Homo sapiens: one gene and its partner. The protein of the gene in region 1 purifies or fractionates together with the protein of each later gene. This does not show direct contact. Each region holds a gene or a part of one and is shown on either strand. Other genes may lie near its edges.

The links. The genes of interacting proteins can lie anywhere in the genome.
Region 2: the proteins of CCR1 (region 1) and ARHGEF10L purify together in Homo sapiens (affinity purification with mass spectrometry; one large-scale study listed by BioGRID and IntAct). This does not show direct contact.

The regions. Positions count from the first base shown.
Region 1 is NC_000003.12:46,201,211-46,205,313, forward strand, and holds the end of CCR1 (C-C chemokine receptor type 1), read right to left. Parts: intron 3,115-4,103; 5' UTR 3,104-3,114; coding exon 2,036-3,103; 3' UTR 501-2,035; downstream 1-500. UniProt on the Homo sapiens protein: Chemokine receptor that plays a crucial role in regulating immune cell migration, inflammation, and immune responses.
Region 2 is NC_000001.11:17,637,198-17,640,697, reverse strand, and holds part of ARHGEF10L (rho guanine nucleotide exchange factor 10-like protein), read right to left. Parts: intron 2,811-3,500; coding exon 2,695-2,810; intron 2,137-2,694; coding exon 2,009-2,136; intron 1,461-2,008; coding exon of another isoform or gene 1,457-1,460; exon of another isoform or gene 867-1,456; coding exon of another isoform or gene 845-866; exon of another isoform or gene 717-844; intron 497-716; coding exon 396-496; intron 1-395.

The sequences.
Region 1 (4,103 bases):
CCAGACAAAAGTTTTCAAGACCATCATGACACCAGCTTCTTTGTACAAAGACCACATGTGAACACAATTCCCACTGAAGGGGGTGTGTGGTTTGGTAAGAGTGCAGCTCTAGTGTCCACAAAAGGAGAAAAGTCAGCCCAATGGTGTCACTGTATTGTAAGGTGGGACACCCGTCAGCTTAGGGTGTCTTCTGACTGATGATTCCTTCTTCCCTTTTACTGCCTTGGCACCCTGAGCTCTGCAGTCCCCCCAACCCCCTGCCATGCTGCCTGGGCCCTGTTGGCATCCCTGTGTCTGTCTGGCTCACTGAGCTGAGCACCCTGCAAGAACAGACATTCCTCATGCACCAGTGTCTCTCATGGCTCAAGAGCTTGCTTTGAATGGAGCCCACAGTCATCACTGCTGGGTTGAACTGATTTGTGCAAGCAATAGTGGGTAAACAGGTGGAGTAAATTAGGGTGCATCCCTGCCAACGACTTCAGTGCAGGCACCAAAAACAATGCTTTGAAATGATTTATTCACCTGGGAAAGTGATCACAACTTGCTGCTAATTAAAACCAACAATAGAACAGTGAGTACAATTGAAGTCCATCATTGTTATTATCATAAATATGCACCCAACAAAAAACAAACTAAAAGAAAATACACTCAAAAGCACACAGTGGGCACATTTTGTCTTTGGGTAGTGGAAGTGTAGGTAATGTCAGTGTTTGGGGTTTTTCTTTGAATTTTTAAGCTGTTTTAGAAATAAGTTTTGTTATTAGGAAAATTATTTTTAAAGAAATATACATCTGAGGGAAAAGAGAACAAAGGCATGATAAATAAGGGGTCCTTGGTTGGAGATGATGCATCCAGAACATTTTGGATAAATAAGCTACTTTGAGTTAAGGGCCTTCTCGGCCTCCTACATCAACACAGAATCTCACCCCACCCTCCTAGTAGACACTTTCCTCCCAACCCCCTATCAGCTACAAATACTGTCAGCTTACACAGCAGGCCTTATTATTATTATTATTTTTTTTTTTTGCTGACAAGTCCAAGATGGCAGTCGGAACTCTGACCCATAAAACCAGAAGGCTTAGATGAAGAACAAAAAGAAGGGAAACCAACCCTGCTTCCTTTTGCCTGTTATTAATCGCTGCAATAAAGCCATTAGAATCTACCAACATATCACCCAACTTGAAAAGAAGAGAGATTCTGAAAAATAGTCAGAAAAGAAGGGTAAATGGAAATGATGAGTCCCTCCCCTTTATGGCTATTTTAAGAAGCACACCATGTTATTCATATGGCCCGTGCTTAGCCCACTCCCTGAATTGTTTGATTTTAGTGGATATAAAAATTCTTCCTAAGGGCTTTCTTAGTTCCACTGCCAGCAGTAGTTCCCCATTTCTATTTCTCGTTAGGTCTCAACTCTTCCGTCATGAGTTCTATGTTCCCCAGGATTCCAAGAGCCCAAATCCTGCGGTGGGAGTGAAGGGGAGGCAGATGCTGGCTACTGATTGGCTCTGGGACTCAGAGTGGAGTCACTGTGGAAATCACTATTTCCAAGTTCTTTGGCAGTGGGAGGGTGGCGGGGGGGGGGAGGTGATGGAAGAACAGAAATTCCTCATACATCAGTGTCTCCCATGGCTTAGGAGCTCACTTTGAATGGAGCCCACAGTCACCACTACTGGGTTTAATTGGTTTGTGCAAGCAATAGTGGGAAGTGGGTGACTTTGTTGACAAATGCTAATGGTCACAAATCTGAAATCTTGCTTGAGTCCAAGCCCTTCTCTGGTACACTTAGTCCCAGTCTCTGGAATATTTGGTTTTGCTCATTCATCTTCTTTCTACCAGGGGAGAAGTTCATGGAAAAGACTGAAGCCCCAGAAGCCTCAGAAGCCCCAGGCCACCATTACATTCCCTCTCTATCCCAAGTGGCTGTGACTCCATGCTGTGCCAAGAGTCAGAACCTGGCTGGGAGAGCCAGGCTGCTGGCTCAGTGTGCCTGGCAGGTCACGCCTGCTTATTTTGGGTTGGCCTCCTATGGTCTGAGTCAGAACCCAGCAGAGAGTTCATGCTCCCCTGTGGAGGGAGATGTGGAGCTGACCCTCTCCAGCCTGTCCACGGAGAGGAAGGGGAGCCATTTAACCAGGTGCACAGCCACACGCCTGTGGAACAACTGCCGCAGGTACTTCCGGAACCTCTCACCAACGAAGGCGTAGATCACTGGGTTGACACAGCAGTGCGTGTAGGCGATCACCTCCGTCACTTGCACAGCCAGGTCCAAATGTCTGCTCTGCTCACACTCATGGGTGAACAGGAAGTCTTGGAAAACAGAAATAAGTATAGTCAAATTGTAGGGGGTCCAAAAGAGAAAAAAGATGATCATGATGACAAAAATCAAACGGACAGCTTTGGATTTCTTCTCATTTGGTCGTCTTAGCAGAATCTTTATAATCCCTGTGTAGCAGATGATCATGACCAACAAAGGCAATACCAGCCCAAAGAGGTTCAGTTTCAGAGCCTGAAACAGCTTCCACTCTCGTAGGCTTTCGTGAGGAAAGTGAAGGCTGCAGGTGTGGTGAGTGAATTCCCATTGGGTCTTGGAAAAGTATAAGCCTGGCATGGAAGCCAAGATGGCCAGGGCCCAAATGATGATGCTGGTGATGACACCAAAAGTGACGGTCCGTGCCCGCAAGGCAAACACGGCGTGGACGATGGCCAGGTACCTGTCAATCGTCAGCAGGATGATGAAAAAGATCTCGCTGTACAAGCCTGTGTAATAAAACCCAGAGAGGATCTTACACATGGCATCACCAAAAACCCAGTCATCCTTCAACTTGTAGTCGATCCAGAAGGGAAGCGTGAACAGGAAGAGCAGGTCAGAAATGGCCAGGTTCAGGAGGTAGATGCTGGTCATGTTTTTTAGCCTCTTGTATTGCACAAGGACCAGGACCACCAGGATGTTTCCAACCAGGCCAATGACAAATACCAAGGAGTACAGAGGGGGCAGCAGTTGGGCCCCAAAGGCCCTCTCGTTCACCTTCTGGCACGGAGTTGCATCCCCATAGTCAAACTCTGTGGTCGTGTCATAGTCCTCTGTGGTGTTTGGAGTTTCCATCCCGGCTTCTCCTACAGGTTAAAAAAAAAAAAAAGATTTGTCTTTACTCTGCTACTAAAGGCAGTGGGCACTGGACAGTAAAGACAAGGGAGAGGTAACATTTTTTCAGCCACTCCATAAATGTTTATTGAGTGCCTTCTGTGTACCATGCCCTGGGGACAAAATGGAGTGTTAGAGAGACCCAGATCCTCTCTGCCTTCTAGGAATCTTAGTCTAACAGGGAGTGGAAGCAATAAGTAAATGAGTGCACAAATCATTAATTCAATCATTTCAGCAAAGAGTTTTGTAAGGGATAAGTTCAATGGGTGGAAAGCCAGAGGGAGACCTTACCATACTATTCATAACCAACACTTCCTAAGCACCCCCATGGCCTAGGCACTGGACTTAGGGTTAAAGAGCCCTGGAGGGGTCCCATTGTTGTTCTTATTTAAGAGGTGATGAAACAGAGGTTCAGAGTGGTTAGGAAACATGTTCAAGGACACACCTCTTGTGAGAACAGACCTGGAGCTCCAACCCAGCTGTGCATCATTCTCATGCCCGGCCCTGACACCACTACGCTTTCCTGCTGCTGTCCCCGAGCAGTAGCTTTGCACTGTGGAGCCCACAGGAGGACTCTGAGAAGGAAAATGGTCCTGGCTCAGAGAAAGATACAAACAGATATTCATGGCTTTTGGTCTAAGAAGATTCTCAGCCGAGAGTGACCTAGTACCCTTGGGGCACTTGGAAATGTGTGGGCATTTGTTGTTGTTGTCACCAAAACTGGGGGATGCTACCGTCATTTGGTAGGCAGGGCCAAGGATGTCCTACAGTGCAGAGATCATTCTACCCCAAACACCAGTGGTGTTGCCATAGTGAAATCCTAGTAGGTCAACCCCATTATTTTGGAGATGAGGACACTGAGGGCACCAGAGTGGGCTGAGCCTGACCCACATTGCACAGTCCTTAGGTGGCACAGGTAGATCTAAGGTCACTTTGCAGACCTCCTGAAGGAGAGGAAAGT
Region 2 (3,500 bases), on another chromosome or scaffold:
GATTTTTGGTGTAGTCACAGAGTTGAGCAATCACCACCATCTAATTTTAGAACATTTTCATCACCTCCACCAAAACCCCTAGCAGTCTAGCAGTCATTCTCCATTATCCTCTCCTCTCAGGTCCCTGGCAACCACTAATTTACTTTCTGTCAAGTTCCATCAATTCCTGGATGGGGAAGCTGAGGCTCAGAGAGGGGAAGTGACTTGTCCAGGGTCACAAAGCAGAGCCTCCGGCTCTGGCCCCAGCTGTTTCTCCACCGCACCACCTCCCTCCCACTCAGAAGCCTCCCTGCCCCCCGCTGACCCCGAACACCCATCCTGTACCCTCACTCACCCCAAACCTCCCCGTTCCACACCCCTGCCCCCTGAGGCACTCTCCCTGGGGCTATACTCACGGAGTCCGATTTTGGCCAAATGTAACCTGTTGACCCAGGAAATCTTGCTCAGGGGGTTGGGGGTGATGAAAACCACCATGAAGCTAATGGGGCGGCCGGACCTGTGGTGAGAAGGGTTAGAGTGGATGTGTGAGTACCCACACAAGGGCCAGGCTCCCCCAGCTGTCACGTAGTACTTCCTCCAACCCACGCGCCCTGGAGATCAAGGAGGTCTGGTCAGAGCATCCCCAAAACGTGGCCAAAGAGGTCAGTGGCTTGGCAAAGCCTCGGTCCCCTGGGGGAGGAATCCCTCCGCCCACAATGACCCCCAGAGGGAGGTACCTGGCCAGGGTGGCTGAGCCACGCTCCCCAGCCTGGCTCCAGGAGCCTCTGGCTTTGTGCCCGGCAGAGCCTCTGCAGGCTGTGACTCCACCTGGTCAGCGGTCAGCTGTCCACAGGTCTTAGACACCTTACATGTCTGACCACGTGCCTCTAGAGGGAGGAATGGGTCTCACTTGGGTCTGTTCCCAGCACCTGGCATGGGACAGTTGCTCAGTAAATGTTTGCTGAGTGGACACAGGAATGAATGAAGAAATGAATGAATCAGGTTAAGCACCAGCTTGGGGCAACCAGAGGTTGCTGTTGTCACCACGCTGTCCTCTCACCTCAGAGCAGTGGGGGCCTTCCCAGCCCTTTGGGAGGTGGGCAGGGCAGTGTCACAAGCCTCTAGGGTGCACGTGGAGAATGAGAGGCAGAGAGAAGGGAGATGGAGGAAGGGAGACGGACAGGCCACTCAACAGGGAGGCGGCAGATTCAAAGCTGCTGACTCCTACACATGGTCCCCTGGGGGACTGAGCCCATGGTCCTACCTCAAATGATAGTGCTCCAACCTTCTCTTCCTTGCAGCCACTGTGCTTGTGACACTCTATCCCCACCTTCACCCCACCCTGGAGGCCAAAACCTGGGCATTGAGCCCCCTCATTGCACTGGCCTGGGCTTCAGAGTCAGACCTCATCAGGACCCAGCTCTGTCTCTCACGATGTGGCCTTCAGCCTCTCCTGAAACTCTGAGCCTCACCTTCCTCATCTGTAAAATGGAAATAAAAAGACCCAACTTACAAAGCCTCAGGAGGACCAGAAAGATCCCGTTCCCTGTCTCTGCCAGGCCGAGCAGCTATGGCTGTCATCAGTTCCACAAACCTCAGTTGGGGTCTACTGTGCACAGCTCCTGTGGTGGGCATTCTGGGGCTAAGGTGGTGCTGGGGGGAGGCTGGGTCCAGAGAGAGGAAACCCAGGGCCTGGCCTGGGGGCCTAGATAGGCTGAAGTGACTGAAAAGGACACAGCGCAAATGGAACTGACCAATGGCAGAGTGTCTGAGTATCCTAACAGTGGGCCAGGCTTATCCAGGACATGACCAGGCTGTTCATTAATTCATTCATTCATTCCACAGTCTTTTCATGAGCACCTACTGCGTGCCAGATGCTATCCCAGACATGGCCCACGATGCCTACATATCCACTCCCACCATGGCATCTCGACAAATAAGAGGGCTCCAGGTACCCTCTCCGGATCCCCTGCTCCACTGGAAGCCCAGCAGAGGCAGCAGCCCTCCCTCCAAGACCCCCTCCTCTCACTTGTCGGGTTTCCCAGGAAGCAGGAGCCTGAGACGGCACTTGTTGGCCGAGTGGATCTCTTCCTCCTTCACCCGCATCAGCCTCTGCAGGGCCAGGCACCAGTCTTGAGCCACAGTCATGTTCAGGTTCTAGGGTTCAGGAGGCCAATGAGGTCACCACACAGCACACTGGCTCCCCAAAAGCCACACCAGATCCTATAGGAATCACAGCACCCCAGAGGAAGAGAAACTGAAGAAGTCCTGGAGCCTCACTGAGGCTGCACATTTAGCCCCACGCAGGAGGCCAACTCGCCATGCCCCAGGCTTCCCAGCCCTGGGCTCAGATCCCACCTGGAGCCCTCCTCTGAGAGGGACATGCCGTCGCAGCCAGCTTCCCCTCCACACTGGGTAGAGGCCCAGGAGGGGCCACATAACGGAATGGCCACTGTGCAGAGAACAAACAAAGGCCCCACAGCCAGGCTCCACTCAACCCAAACCAGAGGATGCGCCCGAACCAGCGGCCGCAAAAGAGACTTCCAGGCAGGGACATGGAGCTTCAGCAGCGACAGTTGCCAACAGGAGCTCAGAAGCTAGGAGCACATCGGGGACATGGGCCAGGAGAGGAGCCCCTCCCTACTCAGCTTTCTGAATCCAGGCACTGCCCACACTGGGGAGCTCAGGCCAAAAAGGTCAGGCCAGGCCACGTACCTGGTAGGTGCCGTGCAGCGTGCTGATGAGAAGCGTGATCTGCTCCACCACGGCCAGGTCCTTCTGCAGGTCCTGCAGCTCCTGGAAGAGGCGTGGGGGGCCGAGGTACACCTTATCTGGGCAGAGAAGAGACCAACTCAGGCACAGGTGAAGGCGCTAACAAGAAGCCAAGCATCTGCTCACAACAAAAAAGATCCAGAGGCTGGGCGCGGTGGCTCACGCCTGTAATCCCAGCACTTTGGGAGGCCGAGGCAGGCAGATCACGAGGTCAGGAGATCGAGACCATCCTGGCTAATACGGTGAAACCCCGTCTGTACTAAAAAATACAAAGAAAAAAATTAGCCGGGCATGGTGGCGGGCACCTGTAGTACCAGCTACTCAGGAGGCTGAGGCAGGAGAATGACGTGAACCTGGGAGGCGGAGCTTGCAGTGAGCCGAGATCACGCCACTGCACTCCAGCCTGGGTGACAGAGCAAGACTCCAACCCAAAAAAAAAAGAAAGAGTTCCAGAAAGTAACATCCAGTTCCTACCCTGACCAGAGCGCCCAGACTAGCTGGGAAGCCAGATCCTTTCAAGAGTAAAGTCTAACACCTGAGATCCAGGCCATAGTCAGTCTGTACAAAGGGCTGTATGAGACCACAAGACCAAGAGCAAGCTGTGCCTGGGAGAGAGGAGGGGCCTGCATAGGGCTGGAAGTGTGGTGGGCACTGCCAGGAGAGAAAGACAAGAGCGTGTGCAAAGGCACTGTGGCTTGAGGCAGCCCATGAACAGCAAGTTGTTCAAAGACATCCTGAGGACCTATCGT